Homo sapiens: one gene and its partners. The protein of the gene in region 1 purifies or fractionates together with the protein of each later gene. This does not show direct contact. Each region holds a gene or a part of one and is shown in the gene's direction. Other genes may lie near its edges.

The links.
Region 2: the proteins of CCDC148 (region 1) and TEX9 purify together in Homo sapiens (affinity purification with mass spectrometry; 3 studies listed by BioGRID and IntAct, with this or other methods). This does not show direct contact.
Region 3: the proteins of CCDC148 (region 1) and LTF purify together in Homo sapiens (affinity purification with mass spectrometry; 3 studies listed by BioGRID and IntAct, with this or other methods). This does not show direct contact.

Annotation. Positions count from the first base shown.
Region 1 is NC_000002.12:158,170,565-158,173,810, reverse strand, and holds the end of CCDC148 (coiled-coil domain-containing protein 148), read left to right. Parts: intron 1-1,551; coding exon 1,552-1,698; 3' UTR 1,699-2,738; downstream 2,739-3,246.
Region 2 is NC_000015.10:56,361,018-56,368,448, forward strand, and holds the start of TEX9 (testis-expressed protein 9), read left to right. Parts: upstream 1-4,408; 5' UTR 4,409-4,433; coding exon 4,434-4,460; intron 4,461-4,561; coding exon 4,562-4,653; exon of another isoform or gene 4,654-4,876; intron 4,877-6,990; exon of another isoform or gene 6,991-7,035; intron 7,036-7,431.
Region 3 is NC_000003.12:46,454,883-46,461,947, reverse strand, and holds part of LTF (lactotransferrin isoform 1 preproprotein), read left to right. Parts: intron 1-2,128; coding exon 2,129-2,292; intron 2,293-5,549; coding exon 5,550-5,658; intron 5,659-5,969; coding exon 5,970-6,152; intron 6,153-6,505; coding exon 6,506-6,653; intron 6,654-7,065. UniProt on the Homo sapiens protein: Transferrins are iron binding transport proteins which can bind two Fe(3+) ions in association with the binding of an anion, usually bicarbonate. Lactoferricin binds to the bacterial surface and is crucial for the bactericidal functions.

The DNA of each region.
Region 1 (3,246 bases):
AGGTTGCACATGAATCACTGGAGCACATGAGAGCAGACCAGGGAGAAGACATTGAGACAGAAGAGGAAAAACCTGGGTCTTAGGCTCATATTTATTGCTTCTCAGACACAAATCTCTGTATTATTCTTGACTTCATACTCATCGTTGCCCCAAGCCCTGTATCTGATCAACTGCCAAGTGCTATTGATTCTTGTTTTCATAGTGTTTCTGACAATTATCTCTTCCTTGCTACCAGCCAAGTTCAGACATTTATTACTTTATGTCTAGACAATTGTAGTAAATTCCTAACCACTCTCTCGGCCTCCATTTCTTCTTTCCCTGCCACCTTAATTTATTCTGAACTTACAATCAGACCCATCTTCCTATGCAACTACAATGATTATATTATTTTTATGCAAAAACTAGAAACAAACATACCCTAGTAGCTCCTTAGACTCGGCATGGCCATGCAAGCCTTTTAAGTTCAAGTCCTAGTCTGAGAAGCATCTGTTTCCAGTGTTCCTCAATGGTAACCAGTACTCTGCTCAAACCACCCTTATCCCAAGTTGGCCTATTTCACCTCTGAGTTTGTAGGTGTCTTCCTTTCTCATTAGGTCTCTCTTCCTCCCCAGTCTGCTTTATAGACTAAGTTGGACTTTAAGGGTAGTTCAATTGCTCATCTTCACCTGAGACCATCCGCATGCCGCCACCACCAGGAGATGCACCCCCATGTTTTACTACTTTTAGGGCATCTGCCACATGTTGCCATAATCTGTAGTTATCTGTGTACATTTTTATTGCCCCAGTTCGCCTAAGAGCTCCTGGAGGGGCTGCTTTTACTAGCTTATTATCACATCCTCTAGGGGGACTTCAAATCCATGTAAAATGCCTCATTAGGTAAAATCCATATGTGGCCACCTTCTTATCATTTCAAACAGTCTCTGTTGACATTTAATATTCATAGGAGGAGGGGAAGAGGAATAAGATCCAATCAGCTATAAATGAAAACAGAAGTTGAACTACTCATATGTCTACTTCCACTTAGAATCAGATCGATGGAGGCATTTTCTACTTCTGTTTGAAATAGAAATCCAGCCTTGGAAGAAAAGTTCTATTGATTTTGTTTTTCAAGTGGTGGCCATGTGTTTAAACTTAATTTACATATTGCCAGATGATGGAGAAATTAAGATGCTTTTTTTGTGGCTTAGATTTATTTTAATCAATGATTATCTGTATTTTATAATTCCAGCCAGCAATAAGTGATAAATCAATAGTAGCACTGAAAGTAAGCTTCTTTTACTTCATCTTTTAATAATTTTAACGCATTATATTTTGACTAATCTAGTACACTATGTTCTATATACCCTACATGGGAAACCACTGATGTACTGAAAAGTGATAATGTCAAAAAGGTTTAGATGTTTCCAAAATATAGTCACTGTATTCACAGTTTACTGTCACCTAGTCATCTGTCCAGTAAAAACAAATTAGTTTGGGAAAACATGGAACTAAATGTTAAAAGTTATTTTAGTTCAATGAATTGTTATTTAAATTGTATTTTTATTTCTACAGATAATTTCTGACCCTAGACTTCGCTTCGAGTTAGCACTTCGAGAAGCTGGACTTCATAGAACACTTTATGCTAAAGAGATATTACCAAAAATTAGTCCTCAAAAACCTCCAAGAAAGGACATGGAGTCTACTGTATTTAAAATATAGAGCTCATCCTCAAATTCTATATGTAAAGAGCATTTTTCTTTGAAAACATGTATATGGATAATAATAATTACTACTTTCTAAAATGTTTGAAATATCAGACATAGAAATCATAGCATCTATTAAAACAACTTTGCCTTTCTTTTGTGATTCTTAGAATTTTATGCACTATATTTCCTGTATCTTTAAGTTATATTTAATAGTACTAAATTCCCCCAAATTATGGAACTTAATTATGGCACATATAGTACTTATACTATAATTTAGTAAACTACATGTTGGAGGTTATGTTATCCTATAAAAAGAGCTCAAAATAACTTTGTGAGAATTATAAATTATGTAGCTGCTACCTGCTAATGTTCATTTCTGCTTGTTATTTCAGAATTTGACTTTTTAATTATGGAAGCTTCATTATCATTAATACTTCTATTATTTCTTGATTATTATAAGAGGAGACTCAACCTTTCTCTAAATTTAGAAACCAATTTGGTACACCATGTTTACTGCAAACCAATCATCCAAACAATTTCATTTTGCAAATTAGCCCTTAAGAATAAATTAGAAATTAGAAATAGCATTTCAAGCATGGGAATATCTGTTTTGGTTTGGAAATATATATATTTGTGTGATTGTTTAGAAGAAATATTTAAAATTTCATAATATTTGGAATGCTGTCAAAAATTCCAAATTATCTATTAAATATTTAGATGATTTTATAGAAAAGGAGCATTTAAAATAAAACTCAAACATAAATATTTGACTATTTCTAAAAAATAATTTTTCAAGCAGAATAACAAGTTAGTGTTGTTGAAAGTTGCCATTGTTACAGTTAAGATTACCCCACTCCTTTTTCTGTCTATTGCAGCTCCCTGACATTTCCCACCTACCTCCCAGGGGTTGCAGCCTCTGTGCAATTACTGGAATAATGTAAAAAAAAAAAAGCCCAATCCAACTAGTGGAATCTTTGACTTTATGATTGTCCCCAACATCATGGAAATAAAAAATACAAGTACAGTCCCGTTAGAATAAATCTTCACAAAAGATTCTATGGGCAATATCTTTATCTGCATTCCAAAATTCATTCTAACACCCTTTTTGTTGCCTCGTCATAACATCTCATAAAAAGAGAGGAAGGAGTGTTTAACAAGAGCTAGAGAGTAGTGAGCATTAGTGTTTATCCTTACAGTATCTCCCAGGGTTACAGTTTTCCTTTATGGGTCCTCAGTTTGCTTGATGTGACGCCTCAGACATAGACCCAAGAAAGCCCTGCCATGTCAGAGCATACCCTCTCTAAACAGCATGACACCAATATTCCTCAGAGTCCACAGATCCTTTCCAACATCAACATCCACACTGATGTCCAGAGGATCACACTCAAATTCCAGCTGAATAGTATCCCCTTTACGTTTTCCCAACAGTCAGACTAGTAGCTGGTGATAGTACTGTGAGGGATAGCACCACCATTTTGAGAACAATCAACTGACACGTGGTGGTTCCTTGTAGACTCTGGGTATTAGACCTTTGTCAGATGGATAGATTGCAAAAAATTTC
Region 2 (7,431 bases), on another chromosome or scaffold:
TATTTCTAGGACCTGTGAGTATAATAAATGTTGTTTTCCTCTCATGGCCACACCTGACTGACCATCACAGAAAATAACACAGAACAGGTTACTTGGATCTTCTCTTTTTCTTGGTTAGCACAGCTATAAGTTTATTGATTTTAACTAGATTGTGGTTTCTGTGATTTTCTCTATTGTTTCCCTGTTTCAGTTCCATTGATTTATGTTCTAATGTTTATTGTTACTTTTCTTTTGCTTTAAGTTTAATATTTTTCCTTTAGCTGCCTTGAAGGTAGACATTCAGAGTTTAGATTTTTCTTCTTTTCTAATATATGCATTGAATGCTAAGCACTCCAAGCACTGCTTTCATAACATTCCACAGGTTTTGATAAGTTATATTTCAAATTTTATTTAGTTCAAAATGTTTTTTTAATTCCTCTAGATATTTACTTGATCCATGTATTATTTAGAAGTATGAATTTAATTTGCAAATATTTTGTGGGTGTCCAGCTGTTTTGTTATTGATTTTTAGTTTAGTTTTATTGTGCTCTGGGACCACAATAAAATAGTTTGTATAATTTCGGTTATAGGTTAAAGTGTGCCACCTCCCCCTCCCTACCATATATTGAAGTCCTAACCCCCAGTACCTGTGAATATGGTCTTTACAGATGTAATCACGTTAGGATGAGGTCATTAGGGTGGCCCACATCCGATATTACTGGAGTCTTCATGAAAAGCAGGAATGCCATGCAAAAGCAGAAACACACAGGGGAAATGCTACATGATTATAGAGGCAGAGAGAGGTTGTAGTGATGCAGCTGCAAGCCAAGGAATGCCAAGAAGTGACAGCCACCATAGAAGCTAGAAAGAGGCAAAGAAAGAGTCTCCCCTGCAGGTTTCAAGCAAAACATAGTCCTGGTGATACTTCTAGCCTGGTTTTGGACTTCTAGCCTCCAGACCCATGAGACAATAAATTTCTGTTGTTTTAAGCCACTCACTTGGTGGTGCTTTATTACAGCTACCCTAAACTATATAATTTATATTCTTTTAAATTTATTAAAGTGTGTTATGGCTAGAATGTGTTCTAGCTTGGTGAATGTTCCATGCGACCTTGAGAAAAATGTGTATTCTGCTGTTATTGAAATGAGTATTCTATAAATGTCAATTAGATCAAGCTAATTGATGGTGCTGTCCAGAGCAACTCTTGCTGATTTTCTGCCTGCTTAACCTGTTAATTACTGAAGGAGTAGTATTGAAGTCTCCAAATATAATGATGGATTTGTCTATTTCTCTTTGCAAGTCCTACCAGTTTTTGCCTCATGCATTTTGACACTACTGTTAGGAGGATTTACACCAGGATTGTTCTATCCCCTTGGAGAATTGACCTCTATCATTAATGCTCCTCTTTGTCCCTGATAATTTTCCTTGTTCTGATGTCATCTTTGTTTGAAATTAATATAGCGACTCCAGCTTCCTTTTGATTAGTGCTAGCATAGTGTTCCTTTCTTTATCCCTCGATGTTGTAAATAGTTTATTTTTAAGATGTTTTAACAGCTTGAGTGATTTATTTCACATATCTATATTTACCCATATAAAGTGTACTATTAATTGGCTTTTAGTGTATTCACAGAGTTGTACACCATCAACACAATTGATTTTAGAATATTTTCACTAGCGCCCCCCAAACCCTGCAACTCCTTAGCTAACCCTCCATCATCTGCCAAGCCTAGACAACTACTAATCTACTTCTGTCACTATGGATTTGCCTATTGCGGACATTTCCTACAATATGTAGTCATATTGAAATAGAATCCTATAGTATGTGATCTTTTGTGAAAGAAATTAGATAATACTTGGTCTTTTGTGAATGGCTTCTTTCACTTAGCATAATATATTCAAGGTTCATCCATATTGTGGTATACATGTACTTCATTCTTTCTCATTTCTGAATAATATTCCATTGTATGAATATACCACTTTTTATTTAATTACTAATCAGTTTATGACCATTATGGGTTTGTTTTGCATTTTGGCTGTTATGAATAATCCTGACATAAACATTTGTACATATACTTTTCATGTGGGTGTGTTTTCATTTTCCTTGGGTGTATACCTAGCAGTGGTTGCTGGATTGTTTGGTAACTCTGTGTATAAACTATTGAGGAATTGCTAGACCATTTTCCACAGTGGCTGCACAATTTTCCCATTCCCACTAACAGTTTATGAGGGTTCAAGTTTCTCTACATCCTCCTCTACACGTTATTGTCCATCCTTTTTTTTTTTTTTGAGATGGAGTCTCCCTCTGTCACCCAGGCTGGAGTGCAGTGGTGCTATCTCGGCTCACTGCAACTTCTATCTCCCAGCATTTCACCATGTTGGCCAGGCTGGTCTCAAACTCTTGACCTCTGGTGATCTGCCCGCCTCAGCATCCCAAAGTGCTGGGATTACAGGTGTGAGCCACCGCGCCTGGCTATCCATCCTTTTGATTATCGCCATTCTAGTGGGTGTCAAGTGGCATTTCATTTTGGTTTTAATTTTCATTTCCCTGAGGACAATACTGAGCATCTTTTCATGTGCTTTTTGCCTACTTGTATATGTTCTTTGGAGAAATCCCTATTTCTTTGCCCATTTTTAACTTGGGTTGTCTTTTTTAAAAATTTTTTTAAATTGTTTTTCTTTTTTTTTTTGAGACAGGGTCTCACTCTGTGACCCAGGCTAGAGTGCAGTGGTGTGACCATGGCTCTTTGCAGCCTTGATCTCCCTGGCTCAAGTGATCCTCCCACCTCAGTCTCCTAGTAGTTGGGACTACAGGCATGTACCACTGGACCCAGCTAATTTTTATTTATCTATTTCCTTTTTTTTTTTTTGTAGAGATGGAGTCTTGCTGTGTTGCCTTGGCTGGTCTGGAACTCCTGGGCTCAAGTGATCCTCCTGACTTAGCCTCCAAAGTGCTCATATTACAGGCATGAGCCACTGCACCTACCTATTTTTGAATTTTAATACTTCTTTATATAGTCCAGACACAAGTTATTTATCAGATATATAATTTGCAAGAATTTCCCCTCTTCCTGTGGTCTTGTTACTTTATTTATGGTATCTTTTGAAACTAAAGGTTTTTAGTTTTGATAATGTCTAGTTTATCTATTTTTTTTTCCTTTTTTTTGTTTTTTTCTTGAGATGGAATTTCGCTCTTGTTGACCAGGTTGGAGCGCAATGGTGCAATCTCAGCTCACCGCAACCTCTGCCTCCCAGGTTCAAGCGATTCTCCTGCTTCAGCCTCCCCAGTAGCTGGGATTACAGGCATGAGCCACCACACCCGGCTAATTTTTTTTTTTTAGGAGTGGCGGGGTTTCTCCATATTGGTCAGGCTGGTCTTGAACTCCCAACCTCAGGTGATCCACCCGCCTTGGCCTCCCAAAGTGCTTGGATTACAGGCATGAGCCTCTGTGCCCAGCCTCTTTTTTCTTTTCTTTTTTTTTTTTTTTGCTACTGCTTTTGGTGTCATATCTAAGAATCCATCAAGGATTCTCAGAATTGTAATTCAAGGTCATAAAGATTTACACCAACAGTTTCTTTGAAGAGCTTTAGAGTTTTAGCTCCTAAGTTTAGGTCTTTGATACATTTTAATTTTTGTATATGGTGTGAAGTTAAGGGTCTAATTGCATTTGGATATCCAGTTGTCTCCCCATCTGTTGAAGACAATTATTTTCCCATTGAATGGTCTTGCACCCTTTCTAAAGATCAGATGACCATACATCATATCACGGTTTATTTTTGGATGTCAATTTTATTCCAAAACAATTGAAATTGTTAACCGCTTACGTGTTTCAGGCATGATCCTAAGCACGAATTCATTTGCTTCTCATAATAACTGTGAAGTGGGCACTATTCTCACTTCCATTTGACAAATGAAGTGGCCGATATACAGAGTGATTTGCCCAAGGCCATATAACTGGTAAGTGGCAGTGCCAGGATAATAATTTAGGTTGACTAACTTGAGAGCCTGAGTCTTAGCCATGCATGCTGTAAACAAAAATTAGAAATCAAAACTTCTGAATTCCACTGAAGAGCTCACTTTAAGCAAACGGGGTGAAGGTCGGATTAGCCACTAACGGTTTGAAAAGCACAACAGGGAGGGATTGCCTCACCAGCTTGCTTTCTATAGAGTAGCGGCAAAGGACCTGCCTGTTTTGGCTGAAACTCTTTCAACCCCCACAAGTTGAGAATTTGCACTAACTAAGTCGAATTTGCAGTTAGGAAGCCTTCCTGGGTTCCTGGGACAGCGCCGAGTGCTGCGAGCAAAGGCCGAGCCCGCTGCCAGAGGCTCGCGCCGCTCGCAGCACAGAACCTGAGAGTGGGAAGGCGTAGGCGCCCGGGCGGGAGGCAACCGGGATGTGGAAACTCTCGCGGGAAGATGCGTCGTTGCCTCGGTAACCGCGTCGCAGTCGCCGAAGATGGCGGGGCGAAGTCTGTGTCTCACGGTCAGTTCAACTCCAGGCTCCTGGGGAGCGTCTGGGTTCCGGCGACTAGGACGCCTAACTTCCTTTAACTTCGGGTCTGAAAGTCTGTGGCTCTTTTACAGAGAAGCAGCGTTCCAGGGACTCCGTTCCCGCCACCCGTTCAGCAACCCTCTACACCTGGACCCGACCTCCTCGCCTTGGAGGAAGAATATAAGTAAGAAATTCGGCGGTTGAACTTTTCCTTCTTTCTTTCATCTGAATGAGGCTGCTTACAAGTACTTTTTTCTGGAGACTGGCTGGATCTTCGGGACCACTCACTCTGCAGCATTCCCTTCTCGTCATCTCGTTCACCTGCCGTTTATCCTTTCTTTGTCTTTGATCTGAGTAGTTCGCCTGCGTATTAGAAGATATTTGAAGTGGGCGAAAATTTAGCCCAAGTAAGCATGTTGTTTAATTTAAAACGTAGCCCAAGTAAACAGCAAGATACTGTTGGAAGTTATTTGGGTAGCAGGAATTGCCACGAATAGTTAGTTCACTTGATAGTTTAGGTTATTTCGCTTAATATCAAGTTCATAGAGTTTACCTTGTGTAAATTTCCTTTAGGTTGGTTTCTAAATTGAAAGGATGCTTCCCACTGCAATCAGAATTACCATTCTCGTTCAAATATTCCTTTTCTTATCTGTTCTCAGTGTAATTACAACTATCCTGACAACGGTGCTTTCATTCTTGGCCCATTCTACTCCTCATCCCCAAGTTTTCACACAGCAGCCAGTGTAATCTTTTAATTTGATCTACCATGCCTTTGCTTAAAATTCTACAGTAGTTTCCTGTTGCATTTCAAAAGCTCTGATCGATGTGGCTCCTCCTGCCTCCTCTATTTGATCTTATTCCCTCTTCCCCTTTTCCCCCTAAAACTCTCCAGCTTCACTGGCCTTTTAGTTCCAAAAACTCTTCCAGGTTTTCTTTCTATCTCAGGAAAGAGACAGTCACACACGCCTTCAACCTGTAATGTGAGTGGCCTTCCTTGACCATGCTAAGTAGGCTCCCTTGTTGGTCTTTTTCATTGTCTCAGTGATTTTTCTTTCTAATTAGCATAATTTGTTACAATAAATTCATTTGTGAATTTCCTTTTTGTCTGTCTCCACTGGACTGTAAGTTCCAAGGGCAGAGGCGATGTCTGTTTTATTTGCCATCATACATACCCTTATAAAAAAGTGCCTTTTAACAACTCCCTTCCGTTTTAATATAAAATAACTAGATTAAAATTTGGAAATAGTTGGCAGTTTGTATCAGAGGGTTAAACTAGAGTTATCGTATGATCTACATATGATCTATAAGCATATTTGAAATTAAAACTGAAAGGTACTGTGTTTAGGTGAACTATACACAGACCAATTTACCACAGCAAGTAGGAAGATAATCATATCTTCTTCTCTCTGATGAAATGGGCCGATTATCCCAGTTCAAAAGTGTACTTAAGCAAATTAATCTGTTTTCTATATATAGTTCTTTATCAGCTATGCCTCAATCAAAACGGTTATTTTCATTATCATTAACCATATAGTATTAAATACCTGGATTAGGTTTATTTGTTCAGTTATTTGAGAGTGTATTTTGCACCTGGTTCTGGTGCATCCTTAGGGATACAGTCCTGCTTAAAATGAGAAATATACAGGGACTATTATTGTATTCTAGCACGAGTTACTTTATAAAACGAGATAGCTAAACAGTATTATATGGTGGCCAGTTGTTACTTGTTCTGTTATCTGTACTCTGAGTTGTGCACATCTGAAGCATATGAACAGAGTAACTCCCTACACTACCTGAATCTTCTAGAATACTTCTGTGTCATGTAGAAGAGTAAAATGTCTGGCCATCCCTGTAAGCAAGAATATGAAATTATAACAGTATGGTATCTGTTTTGCCACCTGTTGTCTTGGCATTGATCATTAGAATGCTACTTCCCAGGGACCTCAATCCAAAACCTTTTGCAGTTCTGCTTCTGTTGGAGGAAATAATCACTGTCCGAAAGGATAGACTAAGGAAGATGCTAATCGCTCAAGTGGATAGATTTTTCAAGCTTCATTCCTGTATTATAATACCAGATAGCTAAACAATAAGATAACATAATAACTGGTAGGGCAAGCCCCCTCATAAATCGCAATTACATTGGATTTACAGATTAATTTGTAGAGAACTGACTTATTTATGCTATTGAATTTTCCACGAATATGATACTTCTCCATTTATGGGTTTTTACCTTTAATAGTGTTTTATCATTTTACTACATAAAATTCTTGCGTATATAATTTGCTTCAAGGTACTGAATAGTTGCTATATAATAAGTGGAATTTTTTCTATTTTCTAATTGGTTATAAATGTAGAATTTTTAGATGTTGATGCTACATCTGCGTTTATATACACACAGATCTTCAGTCCTGCTGAACTCTCTTATTCATTCTGTGAATTCCCTTGGATTTTTGATGAAGACAATTATATGCAAATTTTGATCATTTTGTCCCTTGATAATTCTCCTACATTCTCTCTTTTTCTCTGTTTAGGACTTCCCGTGTGATATGGAATAGAAAAAGTGATGGTGAGCTTCCTTGTTTATGATTTTGAGAAGCCCACTTTTAATAATCACTACATTTGAGGTTTGCTCTAGGGTTTTGGTAGATTCTTTTTATTATGTTTAAAATTCTTCCCCTTAATTCCTAATTTGAATGAGTGTTAAATGTATCAAAACTTATTTTTTCCCTAATTAATTCAGCTGTTGGTATGTTCTTTTTCCCTCCTTTAATGTTTTAACATACTGAACTACAAAGGCAGGTTTCTTGTTTTCCTTTAAAGACTGCTAGATTTGATTGCTATAATTTTATGTAGGTTTTTTGCATCTATGAACAAAAGTGAAATGGGTGTTGTAGTTTTTCTCTACTTCTTTTCCTTTCTGTTTTTGATATCAGTATCATTCTGTCTGTATGAAAGAAGCCGA
Region 3 (7,065 bases), on another chromosome or scaffold:
CGCCATAAGGGGATGGCTCAGAAACAGGAGACAGCAGAGGCTGAACATTCTACCCCATAGCACATCCAAAGGGCAGAGGGCTTTTACAACTGTGTGTTTATTTTGTTTTTTTGTTTGTTTGTTTTTTGTTTTAGTTTTTGGTAACAGCTTTACTGAGGTACATTTTCCATATCATAAAAAATCACCTATTTGCGTACAATTCAATGAGTTTCAGTAACCTTACCGAGTGTGCAACTATCACCATAAATCTGTTTTAGAACACTTTTATCCCCCCCAGTAAAGGTCCCTCATGCCTGTTTATAGTTAATCCTCATTTCTACCCCAGCATCAGACAACCACTAATCTATTTTCTTGTCTCCATAAATTTGCCTTTTCTGGACATTTCATTCAAATGGAATCATACAGCATGTGGTCTCTTGTGTCTGGCTTCCTTCACTGAGCATAACTGAGGCTCGTTCATGTTGTGGGGCATGCCAGTAGTTCTTTTCACTGCTGAGTAATATTCCATTGAATGGATGTACATTCACCAGTTATTGGACATTTAGGTTGTTTCCAGTTTTCTACTATTCTAAATAACACTGCTATGAATATTCATGCACAAGCATTTATGTATGATAGGTTCTTATAATATTTCTTCTGGCTATATGCCTAGAAGTGCAATTGTTGGGTCCTATTGGAACTCTGTGCTTCACATTTTGAGAAGCTGCCAACCTGTTTTACAAAGTGGCTGGTCATTTTACATTCTCAGCAATGTATGAGGGTTTCCACTTCTCCACATCCTCATCGATATGTGTCATTGTCTGTTTTAGCTATTATAACCTGTTCAGTGGCTGTGAAATGATATTTCGTTGCATTTTCAATTTGCATTTTTGACTAATGATATTGAGCACTTTTCATGTGCTTATTGTCCATTCATATATCTTCTTTGGTAAAATGTCTGTTCTTATCATTTACCCGTCATGTACTAAATCCTTTTTGATGTTATACTATCTAGCATTATGTTCTTAATTTCATTTTTAGATTGTTCTGTGCTGTATGCAAAAATATGATCAATTTTTGTATATTGATCTTGTATCCTGTGGCCTGGCTGTACTTGTTTATTAATTCTAATAGTACTTTGTAGATTCTTCAGTATTTTCTACATAGAAGATCATGTTATCTGAAAGTAAAGTCAGTTTTACTTCTTTCTTTCCAATATGGGTGTCTCATTTCTTTTCTTGCCTTATTGCTGTGACTAGAATCTCTAGTACTGTTGAATAGAAGAGTTGAGTGTGGACACTCTCTCATCATTCCTGATCTTAGGTGGAAAGCAGTCAGTCTTTCACCATTTTAGTATGATGTTCATTGCAGGTTTTTTGTGGATGCCTTTTATCAGGCAACCAGGTGAGTAAATTCAATGCATCTTCCTCCCTAATTACATGGATTTGAGCAACAAAAGCAGGCTCAAAAGAAGAACCAGTATTTGAGCAAAAAAAGCAGGCTCAACAGGAGCACCAGTCTTTCTGTGCAGAGTGAATGGTGGTAGCTCAGGCACACCAACCAACTGATTTGTCCCCATTGACACTGACTTACCATTTACCTCAGCTACCAACCGACTCAGGTATATTTTCCCCTGTTCTCTTGGCATTCCCTGGGAAGAGATTTATGCACAAAACAATCTAGAGAGACGTGGATTCTCAGCTGGGCTCTGCACTGCTGAGTGGCGAGTCACTCAGCCTCCTTAGGAGCCAATTTCCACATCAGTAAAACAGGAGCAATGACTCCTTTCCTGCCTACCTTCCAGGTTCAAAGTGGGCAAAGCTGGTAGAAGAATTCCATAACTGATCTGGGGGATCACCATCATTTTTTAAGTGGTAGGAAACATGTCAAAGTCATAGGAATGAAAATAATCTAGAGGGACTTTCTCCTTTAATTTATTGAGAACCACAGACCTCTAGCCAATGCAGAGATCCTATTAGTCCAGCAAGATGCCTCCACTTGTGGAGAATGGCTGGACATAGCCATGAAATGGAGAGGGAAGGAGGGCAGCCGAGAGAGAGGGAGGAGTCTGGAAAACTCCATCAGAGGGTGCGGTGGTCACGCCCTCAGTCAGTGGTTGAATCCTTACTCCTTGGCCCCTCTCTCCCAGGACTGTGTCTGGCTGGCCGTAGGAGGAGTGTTCAGTGGTGCGCCGTATCCCAACCCGAGGCCACAAAATGCTTCCAATGGCAAAGGAATATGAGAAAAGTGCGTGGCCCTCCTGTCAGCTGCATAAAGAGAGACTCCCCCATCCAGTGTATCCAGGCCATTGCGGTGAGTCAATGCCGGGTGTTGGTTGGGACCAAGCTGAATGGAAGGGAGAGAGAAATGGAAAAAGATAGAACACGAGCTCTCCTTACTTCCTCTGCTTCACCTGTTGGGCAACGAAGTGGGGAGCCGTCCTCTCTCACAGGGAACTGTGCTATTTTCAGAGCAGAAAGGAAGGAGCTTAAGTCAAGAGACCATGTGTGAGGAACCTGGAGCCTCCACATAAACTATAATAACAACTGTTATTCATTAATAACAACTGTTCCAAAATGAAATGTAATCAGTTGTATTTGATGAATACATAGGATCAGCAAAAAGCAAAGTTACTCAGAGAGGGAAATCCTCCAAAAGAGTCATGACCTCTAAACCCTGTGAGAAAGAAGCTTGTCCTGGTCACCGTTGCCACATCACATGGCTGGGGCAGGGCCTGCCAGGGTGCTGGGTGTTAGAAAGACTTTTGTCCAAGACACTTTCAGAGAGAGAGAAAAGGGTATCATGACTTGTATATGATTTCTGATTCCTTTTATTTTTTGAGATGTAAGATCTACTGAAATGATTTTTACTCATTCATTCAACAAATATATTCTGTGTACCTGCCATGTGCCATAATCATGTGTACTCAACTCCAGCAGAGTGAATAATTTGCATAAAAGTTCCCGAGGCAACTTCATAGGATTATCTTATAAATACAATGGAGTTATTAGAATAGCACTTAGGGAAAAATCTAGTTTAATCAATGTTTTAGGCTATTATTTTACAACTATTACCTGCATACAAACAGTACCAGTGGCTGGGCGCGGTGGCTCACGCCCGTAATTTCAGCACTTTGGAGGCCGAGGTGGGAGGATCACCTGAGGTCAGTAGTTCAAAACCAGGATGGCCAACATGGTGAAACCCTGCCTCTACTAAAAATACAAAAATTAGCTGGGTGTGGTGGCACATGCCTGTATTCCCAGCTACTTACAAGGCTGAGGCAGGAGAATCACTTGAACCCGGGAGGGGGAGGTTGCAGTGAGCCAAGATCATGCTATTGCACTCCAGCCTGGGCGACAAGAGCGAGACTCCATCTCAAAAAACAAAAAACAAAAACAAAAAACCAGCACCAGCATCTCTTGCTTGTTTAAAATGCAGATTCCTAGGCTCTATTCTAACCTACTCAATCTGAATATATGTGAAAGAAGCCACAAAATCTGCCTTTTAAAATAAGATCCTGTCCAAGGCCATACCACGCTGAACGCGTCTGATCTCGTCTGATCTCGGAAAATAAGATCCCTGTTTGAAATCAGTACTACATACCATTCATTCAAATAAAGTTGAGATAGATTAAATGGTTAAAAATAAAACTTGTATTATTGAAAAACTAGGGGGCAGGTTAACTAGCAGAACTGTAGAGGAAATAGAAATCTCTTAAATGATGATCTAAATCACGAAACAAACAGATATTCTAAAATACAGAAAATGTAATTCATAGCCCATAGAAAATATTTAAATAAAAAAATTAGAAAGGACTGGAATGAATGAATATGCGCCAGCTCTGACACATGATTACTATTTACACTCTATAAAAGAATAACTCAAGGCCGGGCGTGGTGGCTCACATCTGTAATCCCAGCACTTTGGGAGGTCAAGGCAGGTGGATCACGAGGTCAGGAGATCAAGACCATCCTGGCTAAGATGGTGAAACCCCATCTCTACTAAACATACAAAAAAAAAAAAATTAGCCAGGCATGGTGGCACACGCCTGTAGTCCCAGCTACTCAGGAGGCTGAGGCAAGAGAATCGCTTTAACCCGGGAGGTGGAGGTTGCAGTGAGCTGAGATGGTACCACTGCACTCCAGCCTGGGTGACTCCGCTCGAAAAAATAAATAAATAAAAGAATAACCCAAATTGGAAAAAATGTAGAATCATAGAAGAAAAATGATATGAACAGAGTTACCAGTAAGAGGGAATTCATAATTAATAAAAAATACTTGTGAGATGTTCCCCTTACTAATCAGACCTGAGCGATTTGTTAGTACTCACATTTTCTATAGTAATAACAGCTAATAGAATGATAGCCTGCCCTGCTGGTGATTCAAGAGTGAAGCTGGTCCTCACGGTCAGCGCCATTCTGAATTGGTATTATAAGTCTTCTGGAAGCAGAATGGCAACGGCAGCCCGGGTCACAGGGGGAAACGTGCTCCTCATCTGGGGGATTCCACCCTCAGCTGCCTACCCAAGGACACAAGTGGTCACAAGGAAAAACACTGAGGACAAAGATATTCATGAAAATACAGTCTTCACAGGAAACAGTTAGAAATAAACTTAAATGCTAAACATTGGGGGAAATTATTCAATACACGATAGAACACCCACATTATGAGAAAACATTATGCTGTCTACAAAATCAGTAAAGGCTCTGCAGAAGTTAGAAAATGTATCCAGTTTTAGAGGAATAAGCAGTCCACAAAATATGATGTATCCCAGGGGTCCCCACCACCTGGCCACGGACTGGTACCGGTTGATGGCCTGTTAGGAACTAGACCTCAGACCAGGAGGTGAGCAGAGGGCCAGTGAGCATGACTGCCTGAGCTCCACCTCCTGTCAGATCAGCGGCGGCATTAGATTCTCATAGGAGTGTGAACCCTAGTGTGAACTGTGCATGCGAGGGATCTAGGTTGCACTCCCTATGAGAATCCAATGCCTGATGATCAGAGGTGGAACGGTTTCATCCCAAAACCATTCCCCATCTGTCTGTGGAAAAATTACATTCCCTGAAACTGGTCCTTGGTGGCAAAAAAGTTGGGGACCACTAAACTATCCCACATTGCAAACCAAAGAAATATGTAATCATGTGGGAAGCAATGTGCTGAAGCGGAGGAACATGGTTTCTTATGAAAATTTTAGGATAGCTTAATAACTATATTTTCTATCCAATAAAACAGAACTTAAAAGAAATGAATATAGAGCAAAAATAGAAAGTATCTAGAACAAACGACTTCAAATATAGATGACTGTGAGGGGTGTGATCGGGAGAGTGACACAGGCAGGCAGAGGAGAAAGAGGGCAGGCGCCAGTCTCAGGACTTAGAGGGCTGGTGCTCACTGTCCCAAAACAGGGGTCCTTGGCTCTCACCATCTCTCATAGGAAGTGAGGGGACAGGATGGAAAGCGGACCCCTTTGACGACCCTTCCAGCCATGGAGACTTTTTGAGGTCCTGAAGTCCCACTTGCTGGGTTTGGGTGAGTTTTCTGCTGAAGCCAGTCTGGCCTCTTTACTTTCAGGAAAACAGGGCCGATGCTGTGACCCTTGATGGTGGTTTCATATACGAGGCAGGCCTGGCCCCCTACAAACTGCGACCTGTAGCGGCGGAAGTCTACGGGACCGAAAGACGTGAGTTCTGCCTGGGGACCCAGAGGCCACGGTGGCCTCAGCCTGTGCCCTGAGCTGTGTGGATTAAGACTGGGGGAACATGTGGAGGTGGAGTCTGGGTCACATCACACATGTAGGGAATGGAGTCGCTGGGCTCTGGGCCAGATGAAGGCCGTTCCTCCTGACGCTGACCCACGAGAGGAGGACACACGTGAGCTGTGAGGAAACTGCAGCACAGCATTCCCCCTTCCCACCGGAGACTTTTCAGGATGGGTTGTTTTTGTCCCTCTTGTCCAGGCTAAGAACTTTCAATTCTGTCTGCCCCTTTGCAGAGCCACGAACTCACTATTATGCCGTGGCTGTGGTGAAGAAGGGCGGCAGCTTTCAGCTGAACGAACTGCAAGGTCTGAAGTCCTGCCACACAGGCCTTCGCAGGACCGCTGGATGGAATGTCCCTATAGGGACACTTCGTCCATTCTTGAATTGGACGGGTCCACCTGAGCCCATTGAGGCAGGTAAGATGGCTGGGGGATAGTGAGTGGCCTCAGGCAGGGGGCTCTATTCCAGTTGTAAGCACAGGCCACACAGATCATGCAGGTGAAAGTGTGGGATGAATCAAGGTGGGGGTGAGGCTGGCCAGCTTGTAACATCCTGCTGGCAGGATCCGTTACCCTAGCAGCCCTTGGGAGGCACAGCTGAGTCTGCTCTCGGCAGAGGTGCATGTCTCGAGCTCCCAGCCCCATGACAGAGTCTCTCCTGCAGGGGTGGAGGAAGGGGCCTTGCCCACGGAGACCTCAGGATGGGAGGTGTAACCTGCTGTGACCAGGGCTGGCTCACACTCTGTGGTCCACTTCTCTGTGTTTAACAGCTGTGGCCAGGTTCTTCTCAGCCAGCTGTGTTCCCGGTGCAGATAAAGGACAGTTCCCCAACCTGTGTCGCCTGTGTGCGGGGACAGGGGAAAACAAATGTGCCTTCTCCTCCCAGGAACCGTACTTCAGCTACTCTGGTGCCTTCAAGTGAGTGACCCTGTCCCCTTCTCGTCAGTGGCCAAGTGTCCCTTGGCCTCAGGCCGGGAGGCCTTTTCTCTGGCCCCACATAGAGCCCAGCCTGCTCTTGGGGACGAGAGGAGGTCTGTTCTCCTACTGCTGTGTGTCCAAAGAGAGTGCAGGCCTGCCCAGTGTGTGTTCCCCTCCAGCCTTCCGGGCCCAACTGTGCCCCCAACTTCTCACCAGCCCCACGGGCAGTCACTGTGGCTGTGGGCCCTCCTGTTACCTCAGAGAGCCCTGAATCCAACTTGGCTGCCCTGTTGTCCTGGGTTCCTCATACTAATTTCTGCCGCCTGCCTAACCACAGCAGGACTGAAGGCATCTTGTCATGAGATGTCCAGTCCTGGCTCCTGGTTGGGCAGGACCGCTGCAGTGTCCAGGC